3 separate regions of the Homo sapiens genome follow, and regions 1 and 2 are each linked to region 3. Evidence: fine-mapped expression QTL. A gene starts in region 3. Each other region holds a variant in brackets. All regions are shown on one strand. Distances are between the middles of the regions.

Region 1 (8,175 bases), 30 kb after region 3:
GCTGAGGGTCACCGGGCAGAAAATGCGGAGTTTCTGCATTCCATTTGAAGCTGCTTGGTGTTCCGTCTGAACAAACCATGGTGTATTTAACCAGCCTCTGTGGATGGACGGTGCTAGATCAGTCCTTGTTAATGTAACATCACTCCCATCCCCTTCTACATCTCCCTGCATTTCCAGAGCCCCTTTCCAGTATGTCCTAGGCTGAATTCTGCCCATGAAGGAAGCAGAAGCCATTGGTCTCCAGCAGCTACTATGGTTAGGCAGCAAAACTCATGGCAGACTCCTTTCCTCGGCTTCTGGGCATCACCCTGCATGACCCCCACTGCAGTGCTATAAGCAGCTGAGATCCAGCCAGACACAGTGGCTCACACCTGTAATCCCAGCACTTTGGGAGGCCAAGGCTGGCGGATCACTTGAGGTCAGGAGTTCGAGACCAGCCTGAGATCCTTGGTGACAGCTTCCGGCAGCTCCAGGTGTCCCCCTGGGCATCATGTGCTTTGGCCCTGCCAGCACCGAGGATCACTGGTGATGACTTCCCTGCCATCTCCTAACTTCTAGAACTTTCCTGGCCTTTCCTCTCCCAGCCCTTCCAATGCTTCTCTTTCTGCTCAAAATACCTAGAGTGGCTTCTGTTTTCTTGATTGAACCCTGACTGCTACAAACAATACCCTCGCATATCCTGCACATGCCAGGAACACATGCCAGTCTATCTGTAGTATAAGTTACTAGAAGTCAAATTTTCAGGTCAGTTTCAAGGTTGCTGGTGTATTAGTTTGCTAGGGCTGCCATAACAGAGAACCACAGACTGGGTGGCTTAAACAACGGAAAATTTATTTCCTCACAGTCTGAGGCTGAAGTCTGAGATTAAGATGTTGGCAGAGTTAGTTTCACTCTATGGGTGTATGTGTCCAAATTTCCTCTTCTTATAAAGACATCTGTCATATTGGATTAGGGCCCCACCCTAACAATCTCATTTTAACTTAATTCCCTCTTTAAAGACCCTGTCTCCAAATACAGTCACATTCTGAGGTACTGGAGGTTAGGACTTCAGCGTGTGAATTTTGAGGGGATGCAACTCAGTCCATAACAGATAACTAGCTATTCCCAACTCACCCTCCCTGGCAATTGTCCCAAACAGCAGGTACATGAAATGTGTCAGCAAACCTGGTGATCATCACCAATCTAACAGGTAAGAAAATGCACATAGTGTTGTTTTAATTTGCATTTCTCCTACTCTGAGTGACATTAACATCTTTTCATGTGTTTGAATCATTCATATTTCCTTTCCTGAGAAAGATTTGTACAGGACAATTTTCTAGGTGACCTTAAACCAGCCCGGTTCTCCCATCTTTCTTGCTTGTAGTTCTGAAAATTAACTGTAGAATGTGCTAGAAATGCAACATCTTGAGATAAGGGGGAGCTGGCCAGAACTGCTCAGGCTCTGTTCCAGTTCCGCCTTAGAAACAGGGTGGCTCATGCCTGTAATCCCAGCACTTTGGGAGGCCAAGGCAGGCAGATCACCTGAGGTCAGGAGTTCAAGACTAGCCTGGCCAACATGGTGAAACCCCGTCTCTACCAAAAATACAAAAAATTAGCCAGGCATGGTGGCAGGCACCTGTAATCCCAGCTACTCGGGAGGCTGAGGCAGAAGAATTGCTTAAACCCGGGAGGTGGAGGTTGCGGTGAGCCAAGATCGCACCACTGTACTCCAGCCTGGGCAACAAGAGCGAGACTCTGTCTCAAAAAAAAAAAAAAGAAAAGAAACAGGGTGTCCTTCAACACTGTAGCTCAGCCACTCACAGAGCATAAAGCTCAGGGCAGGCTGCTTTTCAGGGTTCTTCAGCCATGGTGCAGGTGGGACGCATGAAGTCAAGATTCCATCAGCCCTGGGCAGCTGGCCTGAGCCTGGGGAACTGGCTCTGAATGAATCCTAGGCCTCTGTTGCCCCTTGCTGCCAATCTGTAATAAATCCTCATCGTGTAACTGGGTACATGTGAGTGTGTTCCGTCTCACCAGATGCCGACAAGTTGGTAAGCCGCGCACGGTGAGCCTGCTTCGCGGTTGGTTCATATCCTTTGCCTATTTTTCTATTGGCTTATTTGTCTTTGTCTTTGTCTTTTTTTCCATTGCGACACCTACTAAAATGGGATTGACTTTTACTTATTTGTTGAAGGGGTTCATTAAAGACATTTATCTGATATGCACTGAAAATATTTTTCCATTTGTCATCTATCTTTTGACTTTGTTCATAATTTTTCTGTGATACAGTGATATTTTAATGTAAATTTTCCATCTTTTCCTTAATGGCTTCTAGGTACTATGTCGTTATTCTTAGAAAGTCCTCTCCTACCCAAAAAGCACTGAAAATTTAAAAATTAAAAACAAGACTGGACGTGGTGGCTCACACCCGTAATCCCAGCAATTTGGGAGGCCGAGGCGGGTGGGTCACGAGGTCAGGAGTTTGAGACCAGCCTGGCCAGCATGATGAAACCCCGTCTCTACTAAAAATACAAAAATCAGCCGGGCCTGGTGGCGCATGCCTGTAATCCCAGCTACTAGGGAGGCTGAGGCAGGAGAATTGCTTGATCCTGGGGGGCGGAGGTTGCAGTGAGCCGAGATCGCGCCATTGCACTCCAGCTCTGGGCAACAGAGCAAGACTCTGTCTTGGAAAAAATAAATAAATAAAAATTAAATTTAAAAAGCTCTTTCCAACTTTAAGTTATAAAATAAATTTTCCATATTTTCTTCTAGTACTGTCATATTTCACTTTTTACATTAACATATTTGATCCACCTGAAATGTATTTTAATATAAGACATGAGGTATTGCTGGGCGTGGTGGCTCATGCCTGTAATCTCAGCACTTTTGGAGGCCAAGGCAGGATGATCACTTGATTCCAGGAGCACAAGATCAGCCTGAGCAACATAGTGACACCCCATTTCTACAAATAATAGTCTAAAAATATTAGCCAGGAGTGGTGGTGTGTGCCTGTGGTCCTAGCTACTCAGGAGACTGACAGGAGTATCACCTGAACCTGGGAGCAGTGAGCCATGATCACACCACTGCACTCCAGCCTGGGTGACAGAGTGAGACCCTGTCTCAAAAAAAAAAGATATTAATATAATTTTTCCTCTAGGCAGATGGTATTCCAGTTACGCCAACACCAGTGGAAGTGGCAGATTTATTACGTACTGAATTATCGTGTGGACTTGGGTCTAATTCCATGTTTCCTGGGCACATTTGAGACCTCTGCACTTCTCAAACCTCTGACTCTGACATCTCCCCTCTTTTCATCAGATGACCTTGCCTTTTAATTCAAAGAGCACGTGGAAGGACTCGTGGGAAGAGCACCTCCAGTTTAAAAACAAAAGACCCATCCCCTGCTTGCCTCCACCTGAGTCTCAGAGCCCACCCTTCCCAAGCGCTTAGGACCACTGTCTCTCTTCTGTGGTCAACATCCATTGCTCCACTAATCCTTCTCCATAGCCTTTTCTTTTCTTTTCTTTTCTTTTTTTTTTTTTTTTTTGAGACGGGGTCTCATTCTGTTGCCCAGGCTGGAGTGCAGTGGTGCCATCTCGGCTCACTGCAACCTTTGCCTCCCAGGTTCAAGCGATTCTCACACCTCAGCCTCCCAAGTAGCTGAGATTACAGGCACCTGCCAACACGCCCAGCTAATTTTTGTATTTTTAGTAGAGACAGGGTTTCACCATGCTGGCCTCGAACTCCTGACCTTATGTGACCCGCCCACCTCAGCCCCCCAAAGTGCTGGGATTGCAGGCCTGAGCCACCGCGCCTAGCTCCATGGCCTTTTAAATGGGCTCAAGACTTTTACGTGTTGAAAACAAACAAAAACAAGAAACTCCTTCAACCCCATGAACCTCTTCAGCTGTGTCCCTACTCTCATCCCACAGCCACATTCCCTGAGGGAATTGTAGTCTCTGCAGTCCCGTTCCCCAGTTACTCCTCAAGACCCTGCACCCCGCTCATCCAGAGTCAGAAATAGTGGAGAGTTCTTGGTCTTGCTTGGTGTCTGGTCTGTCCTCCCAGCTCTGAACGACCACATCCTCTGCCAACATCAAGCAGGACTTCAGCTGGACAGGATGTGGCTCATGACAGCCACTTTCACATGGTTCCCAGAAGGGGAGCCAAAGGGTAGGAGGTCTCAGAGGTGGCAGCCTTCAGTCTCCTGCGAGAG[G/GGAGT]GAGAGGAGCCGCTGGTCTTCTCTTCCGCAAGTGACCAGTCAGGAGTCCGAGTCCACCCACAGAGGTTGCAGAAAGCAACAGGGCTTGCTCCAAAAGCCTGAACATCACTGGGGTCTGGGGCTGTAAGGGGGTACCGGGGGGCTCATGAGAGGGCAGTGTAAGTGCCTTCCTGCCCATCTTCAAGCCAGGCCCTGGAGCCAGCCACCTGCCTCAGCAATTTCCCCATTGCCAGTTCCAGGCCAGGTGAGACTCGTAAAATCACTCACAAAGCAGAATGTGTAGTCAGAGCTGGGGAAGCACCAGCCTGAGGGGCAGGAGGCTAAAGTCAGGAGCTGTGTACTAAGCAATTCACACGCTCCCTCTCCCCAGAGAGATCTGGCCTTTGTGCCTTTGTCCTGGCTCCTGGAAGACCACACCTGATGGTTTACCGTTACCCTAATGAGGTGACTCATGATGGGCCCCTGAGGGCGAGAGCTGTCAGAGCAACCCCCGGGGCGAAGAAACAAGCTAGAGACCCAGTTCAACCTCACAGGCAATGATTCCATCACCCTGCCCACAGAGGGAAACTGCAACACAAATTCTGACATCAAAGCCCGGGGAAGCTTCCGTGGTTGGCGGTACTCTGCGAATTGTCATACATCACAGCAAGGAGGAGGTGATGCCACACCCGTTGGCGGTACTCTGCGAATTGTCACACATCACAGCAAGAAGGAGGTGATGCCACACCGGTGGCTGCCAGCTCCTCATCAGGACCCTCCCTGGACTCTACCCTGTGTCTCTTCCTTTGGCTGGTTCTAATTAGTATCCTTTCCCGTTCATAAACATGGGGGCAATAGTGCTGTGCTTAAGGAAGCACCAGCAATTGGAGGTGAACCCAGACAGGAAGAATCCAGCCCCAGCCTTGTCCCGCCGTCTGAGGATGACACCAGGAAGTCCTGACCTCCCAGGACCTGAAGCAGAAGGGCGCTTGGTATGGTGACATGGGCGGGACGGTCTGCCACTGGGTCGACCAGCCCACCTTTGTGATGAACCTAAGTAGATTAATTTCATTTTCTGGGAGGGTGTAGTGGGTGGAGGGCACAGATAGTCAGCCAAAGTATCATCCCAGACCCAAAGAATCAGGGGATCTGTTTGCTTTTTCAATAAAAAGAGATGGGGGTAAGTTTGTGCAGATACGAGGAGCACTTAAAATCACAGGTAGAATAATAGGAGAAGAACAGAATTGTCTGAGTTTAGTGCAAGGAGAGGGAGAGGCCTCAGAGCCACTGGGGCAAACCCCAGCCCTTGCAAACAACGCTTCCTCAACACCCGTAGGCAGCCATGGTTTTTTCGGATGGATCTAGCTTGGGGCAACCACAGCTTAAGGAAGAACTAGGGGTACCGTGTCTTCAGCTGGGGAGCAGAGCCCACAGGCCTGCTGAGCCCTCAGCCTCCAGTTCCCCGGTGGGGCCTTCCAGCTTCACTGCTTCCTCAGAGCCTGTGGGAACATTGCTACCTCCACCCTTCACCATGATTGGTGTGGGCCTTTGCATTATCCTCTGTTAACCTGCAGGTGGTCTTAACCTGGGGTCCACGAATGCCCACAGGGTCCACAGAGAGCATTCAGGGGACTCATATGCATGGATGGGAATAAATAGACATCTTTGTTTTCACCAACCCTTAACTTTTCTTCAAAATTTGTTAAGGTAGTGGCAAAAAACCACAATAGTATTAGCAGTTCTGTGACTTTGTCACTATATCAGTCAGATCGCAACCAGAGAAACACAACCAGCAGGAGGTACAGCCCATGCTCCTGATTCGTGGTGGTTATGTTCTATAAAATCACCACAAACACTGGATTAGTGAATGTTGAAGCTTTGCTCCTGGGAGAAATTAGGTTCCTCCTTAGGTACCTGTGAGGGTCTGGTCACAGTATTTTCTTTCTTTCTTTTTTTTTTTTTGGACCGAGTCTCACTCTATTGCCCAGGCTGGAGTGCAGTGGTGTGTGGTGCATTCTCAGCAAACTGCAACCTCCACTGCCTGGATTCAAGTGATTCTCGTGCCTCAGCCTCCCAAGTAGCTGTGATTACAGGTGTGTGCCACCACGCCTGGCTAATTTTTTTTATTTTTAGTAGAGATGGGGTTTCACCATGTTGACCAGGCTGGTCTCAAACTCCTGGCCTCAAGTGATCCGCTCACCTCGGCCTCCCAAAGTGCTGGAATTACAGGCTTGAGCCACCATGCCCGGCCTAGTCACAATATTTTCCTCAGTCGACCAACGCATAACCTTTTTTTATGTTTGTTTCTGTTTAAAGACACTGAAGTTAATATACAGTTGATTCATTAATTTTTTTTTTTTAGATGCAGTTTTACTCTTGTTGCCCAGGTTGGAGTACAATGACATGATCTTGGCTCACTGCAACCTCCGCCTCCCAGGTTCAAGCCATTCTCCTGCCTCAGCCTGCTGAATAGCTGGGATTACAGGCATGTGCCACCATGCCCAGCTAATTTTTTGTAGTTTTTAGTAGAGATGGGGTTTCACCATGTTGGCCAGGCTGGTCTAACTCCTGACCTCAGGTGATCCTCCTGCCTCGGCCTCCTAAAGTGCCAGAATTACAGACATGAGCCACCACGCCCAGCCTGATTCATTAATATTGGACTCACGGCACCATAACTCACACCTGAATGAAGCTTCTCCAACGCACAGATTTTCTCCCTATAGCACATCACATCCTTCTTGCTCTTAGGAGCACCAGAAAGCTCATCAGCAGTTCACTTGGGGGCCACATGAAGCAAGAAAACCAGCAACAAAAAGCACAAAATACAAAAAAAGTGGCACTGGCTGGGCGTGGTGGCTCACGCCTGTAATCCCTGCACTTTGGGAGGCTGAGGCAGGCAGATCACAAGGTTAGGAGTTCAAGACCAGCCTGGCCAACATGGTGAAACCCCATCTCTACTAAAAATACAAAAATTAGCCGAGTGTGGTGACACGCACCTGTAGTCTCAGCTACTCGGGAGGCTGAGGCAGGAGAATTGCTTGAACCTGGGAGGCAGAGGTTGCAGTGAGCCGAGATCGCGCCATTGCACTCTAGCTCTGGGCGACAGAGCGAGACTCTGTCTCAAAAAAAAAAAAAAAAGTGGCACTAAATAGACCACCAAAAGGACACATGTTTACAGTGTGAGAGCTGAAACAAGAAGGCAGGCTCAGCCGGGCATGGTGGCCCACGCCTGTAATCCCAGCACTTTGAGGCAGGTGGATCACGAGGTCAGGAGTTCCAGACCAGCCTGGCCAAGATGGTGAAACTCCGTCTCTACTAAAAATACAAAAATTAGCTGGGTGTGGTGGCGCATGCCTATAATCCCAGCTACTCGGGAGGCTGAGGCAGGAGAATCGCTTGAGCCAGGGAGGCAGAGGTTGCAGTGAGTCGAGATCGTGCCACTGCACTCCAGCCTGAGCGACAGAGTGAGACTCCATCTCAAAAAAAAAAAAAAAAAAGAATGACATGGACACATATGGAGTAGTTTTAAGGAGCGGAGAGTTTAGTAGGCAAGAAGAAAGGGAGAAGACAGAAAGAAGCTCCCCCATACAGAGACAGAAGGAGGGGGGCTCCAAAGTCCAAAGAGGGAACCCCAAGTGTGGTGGATACCAGCCAGGTATATGTAGAGGCTGGAGGAAGCAGTGTTTGATTTGCATAGGGCTCAGGGGATTGGTTTGACCAGGCATGTCATTCATGCAGCCCGTGAAAAAGCTGGCCCTCCCACCCTAGCCTTTTAATATGCAAACGCAGGGTGCCATGATGTTCTACACACATGGGGATATGTAGGGGTGGCCATGTTGCCAGGAACATGTGGGGCAAGGGCAAGAAGTTCGCAGGAATCGCCATGTTTGGGTGGACCCAGTTTCTAATGGCCTTCATTTGCATATCAAAGGTTGCCGGCCTGGCTCTAAGAGCTGCTTTAAAAACGAAAACTTCCCAGGGACCCCTTTTCCTCTCTTATC
Region 2 (8,160 bases), 21 kb before region 3:
CCGCCAGAAGGGCCTGAAGATGGGATGGGCCCAAGGGCCCCCACTCTCTCCCTGGGGCCTCTCTCTCACCCTCTCACCTGAGGCTCACTGTAAGGACCACTTCTTTGTCTTTCTCTGTCCCCTTCCAGCCTCTGCCAATTGATAGCCCCTCCACCTCCACGCCCCAACTGAGCTGAACCTTTCTAGAGGGCTTTACCAAAACACAGGGAAAACAAAAGGACAGAACAAAAGGCCAGGCAGGACGAAAGGAGTCCCGCTTAGGATATGCGCATTTCTTTGGCCGCCCCCAGCCCGCCCCACCCTACTACCTTCCTGGCCAGGCCCTGGGCGCTCTGGTCAGCTGGGGACACGCTGGGTTGGAAGTGGGGGTAATGGCCATGGCTGGGGAGCCAGGTTGGGACCCCTCCCACTTCCCACTGGGAAACACACCCAAAACCCCAGCCCAGCCAGTCGCAGCCCAGGTCAGGCGCAGAGGAGGTGCAGCAAATCCAGGGGAGGCTCGGCCAGGAGGAAGGTGCCACTGGGGCAGGGATCCCCAGTCATAGCAACAGTGACACCAGCAGCTGGTGGCTGGCCTGGCCCCACATCTAGCAGCATAGCGTGGCCACGGTGTGGACAGCTCAGCCAGCCATGGGCGTTGTGTGTCCTGTGGGCTCAACAAACACGTGAGCTGTTGCCAGCAAAGCTGACTGAGTGACCCGCACCAAGCAGCCTGCTTCCTGTGAGGAAAGAGCCGGCCCGCCAGTCGAGCCCAGGCCACAGAACAGGTGACCTGGGAGAGGGAAGGTTCCCTCGCTTCTGAGCCGGCTGAAAGAGGGACTGAGTGGGACAGAGGGGATTCTGTGCGGAGACCACACAGCACTGGCATCTTGCTCTGGCTTTTCTCTCCAGGCAGCCAGTCTCACAGGAAGTAAGGATGTCCCCGGGTGTCCCCATCACGTTGCCGGAGGACCAGCCAGCTTCCCGCTCTCAGCTGGCAGCAGCTGCCGGTGATGGATGTGAAGGGACAGTTGTCCACAAGACTCTGGGAGCTGAGGGGAGGCCGGCTCTCCAGGCAGCACCAGAGCAAGGCCATCGCAGCCCCGCCAGCCGGGTCACTTTCTCCCAGGGCAGAGCCACCAAGGAGGGCTGGGGAGAGCCTGGCATTGCCCTCCTGGAGAGGGGAATTTCCTGCTCACCCTTCACACACAGAGGAGAGGGGTGGCTTTTGCCCGCAGGAGATCTTCTGGCCCCAGAAACAGCAGGTGCTGGATTTGCAGCCCTGGCCCTCCAGGCCCCAACAGGGCGACAGTGTAGGGCCAGCCTGGAGCAGGGCTTTTCCAAGGCTGCTGAAGCCAGCCCTCCTCACTTGGGCTGACTACCAGGACCCAGAAGGAACTCAGGGTGAAGCTCATTTTATTCTCAAGCCTGCGTCTCAGCAGCAAAGTTGGTGTTTTCTTCCTGTGTTAAAATCTGAGAAAGAAGGCCAGGTGCGGTGGCTCACGCCTGTAATTCCAGGACTTTGGAAGGCTGAGGCGGGCAGATCACGAGGTCAGGAGATCGAGACCATCCTGGCTAACGTGGTGAAACCCCGTCTCTACTAAAAAAATACAAAAAAATTAGCCGGGCGTGGTGGCGGGCGCTTGTAGTCCCAGCTACTCTGGAGGCTGAGGCAGGAGAATGGCGTGAACCCGGGAGGCGGAGCTTGCAGTGAGCCGAGATCGTGCCACTGCACTCTAGCCTGGGTGACAGAGCGAGACTCCGTCCCCAAAAAAAAAATTCTGAGAATATGGTGTGTTCCAGCCTCTTCAAAGCTCTGCTCTTCTGCACACGTTTTTTGAAGGCCTTAAAAAGGCCACCAGTGTGACCAGGGAGCACCCTCTGCCTCCCTCCCTGCACTGGGACCATAAACATAAACAGCTCTACCAGCAAAGTGACCCATCCCGCGGGGGAGGCCTGCGCACGCCCCTCACCAGGGCTGTCATCAGAATCCAGTCTTAGGACAGAGGAAGGATGTTTGCCTTCAGGACCAGCAAGTCACAGGTGTCCTGGATGTTACCCAAGCTCTAAAATCAAATAAAACCCATCAGTATTTAGTGGTGTGTGTGTGTGTGTGTGTGTGTGTGTGTGTGTGTGTGTGTGTGTGTGTGTGTGTATGAGTGTATGAAGGGAAATGGAAAGCAGAGAAAAGTCGCGTGCCCTCCCCCAGGCACCTGATCTGCCCACAGACCCTTCAATGGGGACATCTCTGGTCCCAATGGTCGTAAATAAAGGCTAAGCGCTGGATTTTTCCATGGCCCCCTGACTCCTCAGGAGCGCAGGCAGAGGAGGTAAACAGGAGGCCAGGTTACCCATGAGATGACCAGAAGCTCATCCAGGGCCGGGACCCTGGTTCATCTCGTGAATTCTTGGCAGCGGCTCCAGGCTGGGCACATTAGATGCTGTCATGTGACTGGCCTGGTGGCCACCTCTTGGTTCTCTGGAAATGTGTCCACTCTGTGCTCAGGGAAGAAGGCTGCCGTCCTGACCTGTCAGCCACCAGGCCCTCTCTGAACTCCTCACTTGACCCGGAGGCATTGGGAGCAAACACAAAGCTCGCCCCTGGTGTCAGTGGTGCAGACAGAGGAAAAGCAGAGGGTCCGCAAAATGCAACTCCTCCGTGGTGAGACTTTGAAAAGGTGTAGAGTGGTTGCAGACAAACAGCAAAGGAGTGGAATGGAAAAATCTCTCTTGCTCCCCACAAGAAGTCCACTCCCCTACGGATTCCTCAGATGCCACTGGCTGGCACAGCCTTTCCCGCCCTTGGTGTGGGAGCAGCAGAAGTCCAGCGGGGGTGGGAGAATCATCGGGGTCAGGTCAGTGTCTCCCTCGTCTGAAGTCAACCACTACTTTTCCCTCAAGCCTACCAAAGAGCTAAAGTCTGATCTGTAGATGTCTGATGGTTTGAGGAGAAGAAAAGATAGTCTTTTAGAGAAGTGGGGAGTATCCAACTTAGGGTCAAAATACACTGAGATTAGGCCGGGCACAGTGGCTCACACCTGTAATCCCAGTGCTTTGGGAGGCCGAGGCGGATGGATCACTTGAGGCCTCCAGGAGTTCGAGACCAGCCTGGCCAACATGGCGAAACCCCGTCTCTACTAAAATACAAAAAATTAGCTGGATGTGGTGGTGGGTGCCTGTAATCTCAGCTACTCAAGGAGGCTGAGGCACAAGAATAGCTTGAACCGGGAGATGGAAGATGCAGTGAGCCAAGATCACGCCCCTGCACTCCAGCCTGGGCGACAGAGACTCCGT[CA/C]AAAAAAAAAAAAAAATACATTGAGATTACCAGGTGGGGTATGTGTGGTTCTTCCAGGAAAGTGCTGAAAATATCACCCAGGCCTCTGCGCCACGCCCTGGGAGAGTACACTCCTGGGCTCACGCCTCTGCATTCCAAGGCTGACAGCTAGAAATATACTTTGTAAAATACCAACAACTTATTCACAAATATTCCAACTATCTACCAGCTCCAATGAGCTTGCTGAGGATGGGTATGACCCCAGTCTAAGGGGAAAGAATCTAAAACACAAGTAAACCTGTTTAAAGGCCAGATCTCCAGATGGAGATCCAAGCAGATGGCGCCTAAGGTTTGCCCTTGAAAACTACCAAGGAAGCCACAGAGAGGGATCTTTGGACCTTCTGGAAAATGGTAAGGCCCCAGGTAGATTATGGCTCCTCTGCCCTGGAGGCTGAGCCGCCCCTCTGGTTACCTCACATCTTCTGGTTTCTTCTGAGTGGGACTTGATCTCATTTCTGCATTCACAGCAAGGTGGAACTGTCTGGCAAGAGCTTAAATTAGGACCTGTGGTGGGGACTTTAATAGGCAGGTGGAGGTTTGAGATCCAGTGAGATGCCAGAGATTAGTCAATAGGTGAGGAAAGATTTGGCCCAAATCAAAAGAGCTAAAAAAAAAATAATAAAATAAAAATAAAAATAAAATAGTTGAACAAATAAGGTTCATGAAAAAAAAAGAAAAGAAAGAAAAGGTAAAGAAAAGAAATCCATGATAAAATATCAAACTTTTTAATAAAAACAAGTCTGGCCCTGTACTTGGATGACCCCACCTGGCTTGTCTAACCCTAATCCCAGCCCCAGTTTTAATAAAACTGTATTTACAAAATAGGCAGCTGGGACGTGGACCAGAGATACCAATTTGATTTTTTTTAAATATTACATTAAAATATTACATCATGTGTCTTCATTACTGAGTTTTGGGGTAGCCCTTTAAATTTTGTATGCAAGGTGAATACCTCACCCCTCTCTCCTGGCCTAGAATCTGGGGGATCCTCCTGTCCCTCCCACAGTGCCTGATAGCACAGCCTGGGGCTGGTGGTGTGCCTGTTTGCCTAGCTTTATCTCTCCAGATACTATTTGGGGTGTGCTGTTCTAAGAAGTGATTAGGTTAGCTTTTGCATATTAACAAACTACCTCTGAAACTTAGTGGCTTAAACCAACAAATGTATTAGCTTTATAATGATTTGGATCAGTGATGGGGGCTGGGCACGGACAGGCGATTCTTCTGCTGGGCTTGGCTGAACTCAACTATGTCTTATGGTCAGAGGGCAGTCAGGGGCTTCGCTCATGTCTGGTAGTTGGCTGTTGGCTGAGCCCTTGGTTCTCCTCTGGCTTAGGCTTGTTCACATGGTGGCCTCGGGGCTCCCATGGCAGTTAGAGAAATCAAGCCCAAGTCTCATATCACGTTCACTATTCTCCCATTGTCCAAAGCAGACCACATGGCCAAGGCCCAAGTCTGTGTGAAAGGATGTGGATACAGGGACCCCGAATGAACCAGAGGCAATACTGCTGCAAGCTACCACATAGATGCTGTTCAGAGCTTTGCAGGACCAAATCTTTTAGGGCTGTTTTTCCATTGTGGTATACCCTCTCCATTTAGATTCAATTGAACAAATATATTCTTTGGGGCTGCAGTGTGTCAGATGTGGAGACATGGTCCCACTGGCTTTCAAGTTGCCATCCATCTTCTAGGGAGAATTTCTGGCCTTTTCGGATGGCATGGTCCAGGCCGGAGCACCAGCCCCAGGTTGAAACATCAGGCAGGTTTCTAGGAAATGGTTGCAAAATTAGCAAAAAGTCAGGGCTACAGAGCCCTATCCAGAGTCGTCATCTTAAGGTGTCTACTAAAGCCTGGGGGTGGATGGGATCTCAGAAGGGGGACTAGAGAAATAGGAAACTGGGGACAGAACCCGGGGGTGAGAAAGAAGACAGCAGGTGTTGTGGGAAGTCAGGGACCCCAAACGGAGGGACTGGCTGAAGCCATGACAGAAGAACGTGGATTGTGATGATTTCATGGACATTTATTAGTTCCCCCAAATTAATACTTTTGTAATTTCTTATGCCTGTCTTTACTACAGTCTCTAAACATAAGTTGTGAATATTTCATGGACACTTATCACTTCCCCAGTCAATACCCTTGTGATTTCCTATGCCTGTCTTTACTTTAATCTCTTAATCCTGTCAGCTGAGGGGGATGTATGTTGCCTCAGGACCCTGTAATAATTGCATTAACTGCACAAATTGTACAGCATGTGTGTTTGCGCAATATGAAATCTGAGCACCTTGAAAAAAGAACAGGGTAACAGCAATTGTTCAGGGAATAAGAGAGATAACCTTAAACTCTGACCACTGGTGAGTCGGGCGGAACAGAGCCATATTTCTCTTCTTTCAAAAGCAAATGGGAGAAATATCGCTGAATTCTTTTTCTCAGCATGGAACATCCCCTGAGAAAGAGAATGCACACCTGGGGGTGGGTCTCTGAACTGGCCCCCCTCCCCCGGGGGCGTGGTCGTCTCTTATGGTCGAGGCTGCAGAGATGAAATAAACTCCAGTCTCCCATAGCGCTCCCAGGCTTATTAGGAGGAGGAAATTCCCGCCTAATAAATTTTGGTCAGACCGGTTGCTCTCAAACCCTGTCTCCTGATAAGATGTTATCAATGACAATGGTGCCCAAAACTTCATTAGCAATTTTAATTTTGCCTTGGTCCTGTGGTCCTGTGATCTCGCCCTGCCTCCACTTGCCTTGTGATATTCTATTACCCTGTTAAGTACTTGATGTCTGTCACCCACACCTATTCGCACACTCCCTCCCCTTTTGAAAATCCCTAATAAAAACTTGCTGGTTTTTGTGGCTTGTGGGGCATCACGGATCCTACCAACGTGTGATGTCTCCCCCGGACACCCAGCTTTACAATTTCTCTCTTTTGTACTCTGTCCCTTTATTTCTCAAGCCGGCCGACGCTTAGGAAAAATAGAAAAGAACCTATGTGATTACTGGGGCAGGTTCCCCGATAGGCAGGTGCAGGAGTTTCAAGGAAGGAGGAGGAGGAGGACTAGGGATGCAGGGAGGAGGACTTGGAATGCAGGGGGAGGACTAAGGATGCAAGCTCTGGAACCCAGGGAGGAAAGCAGGGGATGGAGGGCGGTCACCATGGTCGGGCTATAGAGGAGGTGGGGAAGAAGATAACAGGCTAAGGCCAGCTTGAGAGCAGTTTCCTTAGAGCACTGGCCAGAGGTCAGCCTGCACCAGTGCCCGTCAAGGCGGTGAGCTGGATGCCAAAGGCATTGAGGTCAGAGGGGAGACCCAGAGAAGACAGGGAAGTGGTGGCATGAGCTCTAAGAAGGGAGGCTGGAGCAAAGGCCTCAAAGTTGTGATCTTGAGGGGTGCTGGGGAGCAAGGAGTCCACCAGGCTCTCCTCTGGCCCCTGGGCAGGAGGCAGTGGTGTGTGGCCAGTTTGGGACAGCTCACAGAGCTGATTCCTAAGTTTGGGGGGAATTCTTTTTTTTTTTTTTTTTAGGACAGAGTCTCGCTCTGTTGCCCAGGCTGGAGTGCAATGGTGCGATCTCGGCTCACTGCAAGCTCCGCCTCCCGGGTTCAAGCAGTTCTCCTGCCTCAGGCTCCCAAGTAGCTGGGATTACAGGCACGTGCCACCATGCCTGGCTAATTTTTGGATTTTTAGGAGAGACGAGGTTTCACCATGTTCGTCAGGCTGGTCTCGAACTCCTGACCTCAGATAATCCGCCCACCTTGGCCTTCCAAAGTGCTGGGATTACAGGCATGAGCCACCGCGCCCGGCCCAGTTTGGGGGAATTCTATGAGCTGCTTTTAAACATAGCCATTACCAAAACTTAAGTTATATAAACTTACAGTAAAATAAATTCTATTAAGAACAAAGGGAATAAATACTCAAAACATCCTTTCCTAAGGATTTTCCTGCATCCACTGTCCTCAGTCCTGGAGGTTATTCACATCTGTTGCATCTGTATGGTGGAAATATGACAGAATTAACAAAGGCTGCTGGACATCTCTTCCCAGCTCTGTGTTCAGTGACATCATTTTGGTAGCTTGAAACTGGCCATGGTGGGGGTATTTACACCACAGAAATTGGCAAGCACCACAAACCAGAGCTTTAGCCCCCACCCCCAAGAGCCGGTTATTAAATGTTTACCAGCACTCCACTGGCAGAAGCCGTGCAAGACGGTGCAGCCTCAGAGGCAGGATGTTGGGTGGATCAGGAACTATGTCAGGGAGAGTTAGAGGAAGCAAGGCAGTGTGCATCCCTGAAATAGCAAAGCCAAGGGTGTGGCATGCACGATGGAGAGGTAGCGGCTGACTCTGCCCAAATCTCTTTCTACAGGTCCTCAGGGATCGCACTGGCCCAAAGCACTTGTGTCAGCTCACCTTCCAGCATCTGGCTCAGAGCCTCTCCCCATTTCTGTGATCACCGAGGGCTTCTTCCAGTTGTCCTGGGTGTCACTTGGACACCTTCCTGCTTGGCACAGTGTTGCTGCTCACGCTCTCGCTGTCCCTCTGGGCCTCTGGAAACACGCCTGCCCCAAGTGTGCACAGGTGTGGAGCTGCTCTTTGTCACAAGTCTTCAGTGATGAGTCACCAGTTCCCGGCGGGGGAAGAGTTCACTGGATACATGATAGTGTGGCCTGGGTCTCAAACAGCCTGGAGTAGGGATCACTGACCAGGCTGGAAGGGAGGGGCATACAGGGTGCCACCCTCTGACCAGCAAGTTTCCAAGTTATGCCAAGTCAGGCCTCAACTCAGGCAGCACCGTCTTCAAGGGAGAAGCCAGGCAGAGGGTCCCAGTGGCTTATAGGCCCTGAGGGGCAGGACCAGGG
Region 3 (8,175 bases):
TACCTCGCTGCTTGCTCCATCCTGGCCTTCTCCTCCTCCCACCCCTTCAAAGGAAGACCTGTCCCCCAGGGAAATGTGTTCTCCCTTTTCATTTTCCATCCCTACTTCCCTTCCTGCCCTAGATCCACACACTGCCTTGGCTTCACACAGGAGCCATTTCTGGGAGACATCAGTTTACCTGGGGGCACTCCCCCAGTGCTTGTCTGGGTAGTGAGCCCCTTGACTCAGCAGCCTTGAGGTCCCTCCTGCACTGCCCTGCAGGATGGGTCAGGTTCTCTGCAGAGGATATTGGTGGCCTTCAAGGACCAGAGGTAGTTGAGAAAGCGTAGGTCTCACCCCACCCTTCCCCATCGGGTGGCATATTATAATGAAATCAACTCTCAGACCCAACGGCTACCCTACTGGAAACATCTGTTAGCACGAAGCACAGAAACAGACACCCTGCCCCTGCCCACAAGCTCAGGGAAGTCTCACTCTGTCCTGTCACAACAGCTTTTGTCAGGGTGAATTCAAGGACATGCTCACCATGACTAGCTAACCTCCAGTCAGAGCACCACCTGCGGGGGCCCAGAACCACTCAGAGAAAGTTCTAGACCCGGGGCACTGCCCTGCTGGTGGCTGGACTTGCCCAGGCACAGGCAGAGGGGACTTGCGGTGCCTCTTCCCAGGCACACATCTTCAGCAACACTCTTTTTACTACAGAACAATGATTTCCGACCCTCCCGTGTTAATGTACAGACCCTCTGCTGTGACAGTAGACAACCACATTTGAAGTGCTGGCTGTGGCTGCCCCTGGAGTGTAGACTGCTGCTCAGGGTCTTTCAAAAACACCAACTAAGTTTAACTCACACGCTCACAAAATCACAGCAGCACTGAGGCGATTACAGCCAGCATAGCTGCCTGCCCGTGGCCCCTGCTGGGCTCCGCGCTCTCGCCCCACGATGGCCACCTCTCTGCAAGGCACGCAAGACTCCTCACCTTCTGCTTTGGGGGTCCCTCTGACCCAAGTTGGCCCCCACCTTGTCCAGTCAAGCCACTGACCCAGTGTGTTTTCTGGCCAGTCAGATACTCCCACCCTTGGGTCTCTGCAGCCCTCGCCTCTGGGCAAAGGCCTGTGCTGGGGTTACCAGCAGGGTCGGATTCCAACCTATTCTGGAAGGTTGAAGGGGTGGGATATAAAAGAAAGTGGAGGTGGAGGTAGGGATGGGCTGAGGGGCCAAAAGATGTACTGGGGAAGGGGGCATTTCTTGGGGTCCTCCAACGTCCTGGCTCACGAGCTTCCCCCTCCAAGGGAGCAACCTGAGGTGCACAGAGTGGCCTTGTGACAAGGACACAGAACCCACCTCCACCTTGGCTTGGGACTCCTGCAGCCTATGCAGCCAGCTCATCCGTCACCCACCCTCTTCTCCTGGTATCTGCCACTCTGGAACTTCCCTCTACCTCTGGGCTCTGCCTTCAGCCAGGGTTGGGGACAGCAGGTAGGCAGATCCCATCGCAGACAGGCCTGCCTTCCTCAGGGCCTCGCTTAAATCCACAGGAATCTGCTGGGGCTCTGCCCTCTGGCTGGGGCAGGTGGAACTGGCCAGATTGGCGGTGGGGGGACCACTGTGCTTGCCATAGGGACTGGCCCAGCTGCCCCACAGGGGAGCACATTGGAGTAACAGGGGAGGCTGACCCGAGCCTGGCCCGGCTCCACACTCCCCACCCCCACCCCACCATCAGGGACTCGCATTTAATTGTCATTCATTTCCCCTCTCTGAATTCAAACTAGGCACAGATCAAATGATTCCATGATGACAAACTGCCTGTCTCAACTGACCAGATTCCACTGGCAAACACTCCGCTGACCTTGGGCAGCTCCCTCTGCTCCCACCTCCTCTGGCCCTTGTGCTTCTGGGGCTTTGTGGAGTAGCTGGACATCAATGATAACACTAACAGTAGCCGGCCTGCCACCAAGTTCTTTACATAGGGGATGCCTATGTCTGTGCTTCATTGGCGTCATCTCACAAGGCCCTGAGCTGGCAGGAAATTGAGGTCTCAAGGGGAAAAGCCACCTGCCCCCAGTGACAACCAGGAAGTGCAAGACTCTGACCCAACGCCCATGCCTGCCATCCCCAAACATGGGCTCAAAACCCCCTTCCCAGGGACGGCTGTGTCCACCCCTCAGCAGGAGGAGGAGACCCCACAGCACCGGGTGAGAGGTCAGTGCTGAAGCCAGGGAGGCAGCTCTCAGCAGGGCACCTGTGTGGAGCCAGGGAAGCCAGGGCCACACTTGCAGGGTGAAGTGGGGAACTCGGAAGGCTGGGCAGTGGAGCAAAATGCTTGGTGCCCTGCGGGAACCGGTGGCCAAGGCTACACTGGGATGAAGGGAGCCGTGGAGCTGCAGAATCTGCGGGTGGCCCTCAGTGGCAGGCAGCCAGGCCAACAGGGGCTTTGGGCTGCAGGTCAGCCCCTCCCCTGCTCTGGAACTTTTGGAGGGCCATTACAAAGGACATCAGCCCCAAGATACTCCTCTGAAATTCTGCCTGAAAGGCCCTTCACATTCCCTAATTGGCACTTACAACATTCCAGAACATTCTATGGTACCTTAAGTTTCTCCTCCCCCTCCAAAGGGCCCTTGAACCTTAAGGATAGGGCAGAAGGGGCTCCTCACCCTGGCCTCGAGGGCTTAAGATCCAGCTGAGGACTCCTAGCCTCCCTGTGTGCTGGGCAGGAAAGTAGCTCCATGTCACTGCTGTCCCTGGGAAAGGAAAAAAGGTTGAGGAAGGGCTCAGAGCCAGCCTTCAGACCAGGCAGGAAGGGTTCAGAGCCAGCCTTCAGGCCATGCAGGCCTCCTGGATGTGCTTACTAACTCTGGGCTCGCTGTTCTCTGAGCTGGCTGGGAGTTCCCCTCTGCACCCCCGTTTCCTCCCCTGTAAGGTGGGAATAATAGCGTATGTCTCTAGGATTAAGTGAGCCAGTCATGCATGGGCCGAGAACCAGGTTTGGCATATTGTAGCTGCTCAGTGGACGTTAGCTGTTATGATTGGACCACAACGTGCTTCCGTTTCAATTCTGTGGGCCTTTTGGAGGTCCTGCTGGATGCTAAGCACCGAAACCTCAACCCGGAACAAGACCAGAACAACCTGAGCAACAACAGGACCAGCGATGGCTCTCCCTGCTGGAGGATTCTGGAAGTCACCTGGCTGGACCAAGCCCTCTCCGTGTTCTCTGTCAGCCCACTCCCCAGAGCCGCTAGGCCTGATGTGCACAAGCAGACTAATAAAGGCTTGAGGACAAAAAGGGTTTTGAGTGATAAGTGAAAAAAGAAAGGAGATAGGGCTGGGCCAACAGGCCTTCCCTTGGTGGTGGGGAGCCCTCAGAGGTGGGAGGAACCCCAGAGGTGAAGAGAGGGACATGGTGGGGGCACAAAAAAAGCTTCCAGAGCCACAGGCCTGGGCGAGTCCTGACATGGAGCCCAGTCTCATACGGCCTCTTTCCCTAGTGGCTGGCTTTGCTCCTGGCCCTAGGTAGCCCAACAGCTGGGCAAGGGGTCCGTCTGGTCAGGGGAAAGGTGCAGGGGCAGAAGGTAGCAGAGGGAGAAAAGGACACCCTGTCTGCCTCTGGCCCCAAAGACAAGTCCGAATGGGGCCAGAGGGAAATGGCTGGGCCTTGGGGTGCCCCAGGGTCTTGGAGGGGACCGGGTGTTCAGGTTTCGCACAAGTACAGGAGGGACCGGCGACCGCCCTCCCCCCGCCCCGGGAGGCTCCGCCAGGGACAGGCGTCCCCGGGATTGGAGGTGACCCCCGTGGGTTCCGAAGCCCCGCCTCGGCCATGCACTGTCTACTAGGCGCGCTTGGGGAGCCTAGGGGCCGTCTCGGAGAAATGGGGTGGTCCCCGCCAGGCGGCGGCGGGGCGGGCCCTGGGCGCCGAAGGGGTTAAGGCACCTGGGCCACCGCCCCTGCCGGCCCCTCCTCCCGCGGCCGGGAAGAGGAAAGTCGCGGCGGGGGCGCGGCCCGGTCTCCGTCCCCACCCGCCCGCCGTCCCGCCGGCCCGAGCCGTGGCGCCCAGAGCTGCGAGCCGCTCGCCCCTCCGCCGCTCCGGCCCGGGCCGCCATGTCGCTGTGGTGAGTGGGGCTGGGGGCCGTCGGGGGCCTGGGCGGGGGCGTGGGCCCGGGGCTCCCCCTCCTCCGTGGCCACAGACGGGCGCCGGGACTCCCGGGATAGGAGATGCCCCCGCGCGCGCCGCGCCGGCCTCAGTTTCCCGGGGGCGGATGGGCGGGCGGGCGCGGCGGCGGCGGCGGGAGATGTTCGCGGTACGCGGCCCCGGACCCGTGGGGGACGTCGAGGGGTCTCGGGGCGCCGCGCTCAGCTCCCCGGCCCCGCGGCCCTGGACACCGCTCCAGGACCCTGGCGGCTGGGACCCCAGGTCTTGCCGGCAGCTGGGTCCCCTCTCCCTTCCAGACCCCTGAGGGCCCCCTGCGTCCGGGCCACTCTCCTCCTCTCGGGGCTTCCTTCCGCGGGACCTCGGACCGCCGCCCGCCCGGCCCCTCTCCGCCCCTCCCGGGCTTTCCCTACGAATGGAGCGGACCCGGCAGGTGGAGCGCCCGCAGCCCAGGGCCTCGCCGCCTTCCCGGTGCACCCCCCGACCTCCCCCGTCCCGGCCTCGGTGGGCGGCTTCCCTGGAACCCCTAGGGCTGGCAGGGCCGGATCCGGAGCCCTCCGTTTCCTCCCCGGAGAGCTGGACCTTGGGTCACACCCCCCAGCCTGCACCTAAGGTGCCCCTGTCTTCCTCCAACCACATGCCCCAGCAACCTGGGGACCCTATGGGGAAAATGTCGCTCTATGGGGCTCAGCCTGCATTCACCCTGGGGCCTGGACCTGCAACCGGACCAGCCCTCAGGGCAACCCAGGCGTCTCCACGGGCTGCCTGTCTCTCCTGGCACCCTGCTCCTCCCCCTTGGAGGTCAGCGCCATCTCTCTGCTAGGCTGGCCCTGGAAGGCCACTCTGCTGTCCCCAGAGCTCTCAGCCCCCAGGTCTCCACTGGGGAGGGTGGGGCAGGTGTCCTGGCAGCCCCCGGAGGGTGAGATGAAGAGAGGAGGTCCTTCAGGACAGGGGCTCAGGCCCCAGGGCTTGGGACGACCAGCACTCCTGGCAGAGAGCTCTAATTTCTGCTTCCGAAATGGGTGTGGACCGGGGTTGGGGTGGGGGGGTCTCTGGGCAAGAAGGGTCCCTCAAGGGCTGGAGCTGCAAATGTGCCCCCTCCCAGGGAGTAGAGCTGTAGCCTCATGTCTTCTAATGGGGTGTTATGAGCTGGGGATGTTAAGGTAGGGGTGAGGGGCAGTGCCATGCTAGAGGTGCTCACTGCATCCTTGGGCCTCCATCAACCATGAGGGCTGCTCTTTGTTGGGTGAGACAGACTGGAGAAGGGGGAGGAGGGCCAGTCTTCCTCAGGTCCCAAGCTCGAGCCACTCTCCAATGTGCCCCACATGTGATGGAGCTCCCGGGCGGCACAGAGGATCAGAGGGTGCCCTCTCAATGACTCTGGCTCTGAGTCACCTAATGATACCGATACCTACTGCTGTGGGTAGGTACACCGCAGGGAAATGAAAGGCATTGGGGTTCCAGGCGTGGGGAACAGGGCAGAGGTTTCCACCTGAGGCCCTCCTGTTAAGGTGACAGCATTCCCCTAACTGTGCACCCGCTGCCTGGTACTTTATATAGCACTCCAATCCTGTGTTTTAGCCCCATTTGGGGGAAGAAGAAATCGTGGCTCAGAGTGGTTGTAAACCACTCATTCAGCTTGTAAGCGTCAGGGCCTGATTCCACAGTGCTCCTTGAGGAGAGGGCAGGGTGGGAGAAAGAAAGGGCAGGGTGGGAGAGGAAGCGGGACCCTACCCTGACAGCTTAGGGACTCCGGGACTGAGCCTGTGCCCAGGTCCACTTGCCCGTCTGGGACCACCCAGCCTCCCAAGGGGGGCGCCAGGAGAGCCCTGGGCTCATCTTTTCTCTCTCCTCTGTACTGTCCGCTCTCCCCCACAGGAAGAAAACCGTCTACCGGAGTCTGTGCCTGGCCCTGGCCCTGCTCGTGGCCGTGACGGTGTTCCAACGCAGTCTCACCCCTGGTCAGTTTCTGCAGGAGCCTCCGCCACCCACCCTGGAGCCACAGAAGGCCCAGAAGCCAAATGGACAGCTGGTGAACCCCAACAACTTCTGGAAGAACCCGAAAGATGTGGCTGCGCCCACGCCCATGGCCTCTCAGGGGCCCCAGGCCTGGGACGTGACCACCACTAACTGCTCAGCCAATATCAACTTGACCCACCAGCCCTGGTTCCAGGTCCTGGAGCCGCAGTTCCGGCAGTTTCTCTTCTACCGCCACTGCCGCTACTTCCCCATGCTGCTGAACCACCCGGAGAAGTGCAGGGGCGATGTCTACCTGCTGGTGGTTGTCAAGTCGGTCATCACGCAGCACGACCGCCGCGAGGCCATCCGCCAGACCTGGGGCCGCGAGCGGCAGTCCGCGGGTGGGGGCCGAGGCGCCGTGCGCACCCTCTTCCTGCTGGGCACGGCCTCCAAGCAGGAGGAGCGCACGCACTACCAGCAGCTGCTGGCCTACGAAGACCGCCTCTACGGCGACATCCTGCAGTGGGGCTTTCTCGACACCTTCTTCAACCTGACCCTCAAGGAGATCCACTTCCTCAAGTGGCTGGACATCTACTGCCCCCACGTCCCCTTCATTTTCAAAGGCGACGATGACGTCTTCGTCAACCCCACCAACCTGCTAGAATTTCTGGCTGACCGGCAGCCACAGGAAAACCTGTTCGTGGGCGATGTCCTGCAGCACGCTCGGCCCATTCGCAGGAAAGACAACAAATACTACATCCCGGGGGCCCTGTACGGCAAGGCCAGCTATCCGCCGTATGCAGGCGGCGGTGGCTTCCTCATGGCCGGCAGCCTGGCCCGGCGCCTGCACCATGCCTGCGACACCCTGGAGCTCTACCCGATCGACGACGTCTTTCTGGGCATGTGCCTGGAGGTGCTGGGCGTGCAGCCCACGGCCCACGAGGGCTTCAAGACTTTCGGCATCTCCCGGAACCGCAACAGCCGCATGAACAAGGAGCCGTGCTTTTTCCGCGCCATGCTCGTGGTGCACAAGCTGCTGCCCCCTGAGCTGCTCGCCATGTGGGGGCTGGTGCACAGCAATCTCACCTGCTCCCGCAAGCTCCAGGTGCTCTGACCCCAGCCGGGCTACTAGGACAGGCCAGGGCACTTGCTCCTGAGCCCCCATGGTATTGGGGCTGGAGCCACAGTGCCCAGGCCTAGCCTTTGGTCCCCAAGGGGAGGTGGAGGGTTGAGGCCTACGTGCCACTGGGTGTGGTGGGGTGCAGGTAGCCAGAAAGGGACCTCCCTGTGTGGATAATTCTAGGAAACTGAGGCCCAGGAACGGTTGGAGCTGCCCAGTCTGGAGGCCCTCTCTGAGGAGCGAGGCGCCAGGCCCTGGCAGCCCTCCTGACCTGGGTCCGTTGCTGGCCCCCTCAGATGTGGTGGGAGGTCCTGGTGACCTCTGGAGGAACGCTGTGCTCAGGTACCTGGGCTAGGCCTGGCCTGATGGGTCTGTGGCCGCCCCTCGTCTTCACAGGGAAGAGTCTTCTGTGAAATGCCTCAGTCTCCCCAGAGGCCGGGCGGCCCTGGCAGGAGAAACTCAACCCTGTGCGGGCTCACAGGCACCCCCCAGTCCACACCCTGGTCTCCTGGGAGAGAGGGCCCAGCCGGCTCTCCGCAGCCCCAGGCCTGCCTGGAGACGGGCCGCCTCTGCCACAGGGCCTCCACTCCTGGCTGTGTCCTGTAAGGTCTGGAAGGGCGACCGCTCTGACTACCTCAGCGCCCCTCAGAATCTCCCTGGGGCTGCAGCCCTACCCCACCCCGACACAGGGCAGAAGAGCAGCGCTCCTGGCCCCCCGAAGTCCCAGAGCTGCTGACCCCCACCCCAGGCAAGTCTCTCCCGCAGCCCCCACACCCCCAGGCCTGGCTCCCTGGCTGGAAAGCAGCCGGTTTGGCCCTGGAAGTGGACATTCCTCTATTACTGTGAAGTTTTATTTATGAAGAATTTGGAGGGAGAAGGCTCCAGGCTTCAGGAGGGGGTGGTGTCCTCCCTGGCCCTCCTCCCTTCCCTCCCCTCATTCCAGCTGCCTGCCC

Which allele goes with the higher level. Alleles are on the strand shown, and positions count from the first base shown. SD is a standard deviation of normalised expression in the study named. Not every link is listed here.
As copies of GGAGT replace G in region 1, the expression in NK cells of the gene that starts at base 4,001 in region 3 goes down (large effect, 0.86 SD a copy in Schmiedel 2018).

What was found.
Region 1: its variant is fine-mapped to the expression of B3GNT7 in NK cells (Schmiedel 2018, PIP 0.93).
Region 2: its variant is fine-mapped to the expression of B3GNT7 in whole blood (INTERVAL, PIP above 0.99).

Annotation. Positions count from the first base shown.
Region 1 is chr2:231,421,379-231,429,553 of GRCh38, forward strand. No RefSeq gene overlaps it. Among named protein-coding and RNA genes, the nearest start is that of B3GNT7, 30 kb to the left of the region's middle. The variant G/GGAGT (reference allele first, on the strand shown) is at 4,196.
Region 2 is chr2:231,370,622-231,378,781 of GRCh38, forward strand. It overlaps ARMC9 (armadillo repeat containing 9), which reads left to right. Exons shown (of 25, transcript NM_001352754.2): 25 at 892-6,227. The coding sequence ends at 914. Among named protein-coding and RNA genes, the nearest start is that of MIR4777, 12 kb to the left of the region's middle. RefSeq lists enhancers at 1-364, 365-1,012, 5,568-6,131. The variant CA/C (reference allele first, on the strand shown) is at 3,274.
Region 3 is chr2:231,391,710-231,399,884 of GRCh38, forward strand. It overlaps B3GNT7 (UDP-GlcNAc:betaGal beta-1,3-N-acetylglucosaminyltransferase 7), which reads left to right and starts at 4,001. Exons shown (of 2, transcript NM_145236.3): 1 at 4,001-4,105; 2 at 6,022-8,175. The coding sequence starts at 4,095. The coding sequence ends at 7,216. RefSeq lists enhancers at 456-1,039, 1,623-2,205, 2,206-2,787, 3,083-3,132, 5,401-6,600 and 3 more and a silencer at 3,683-4,152.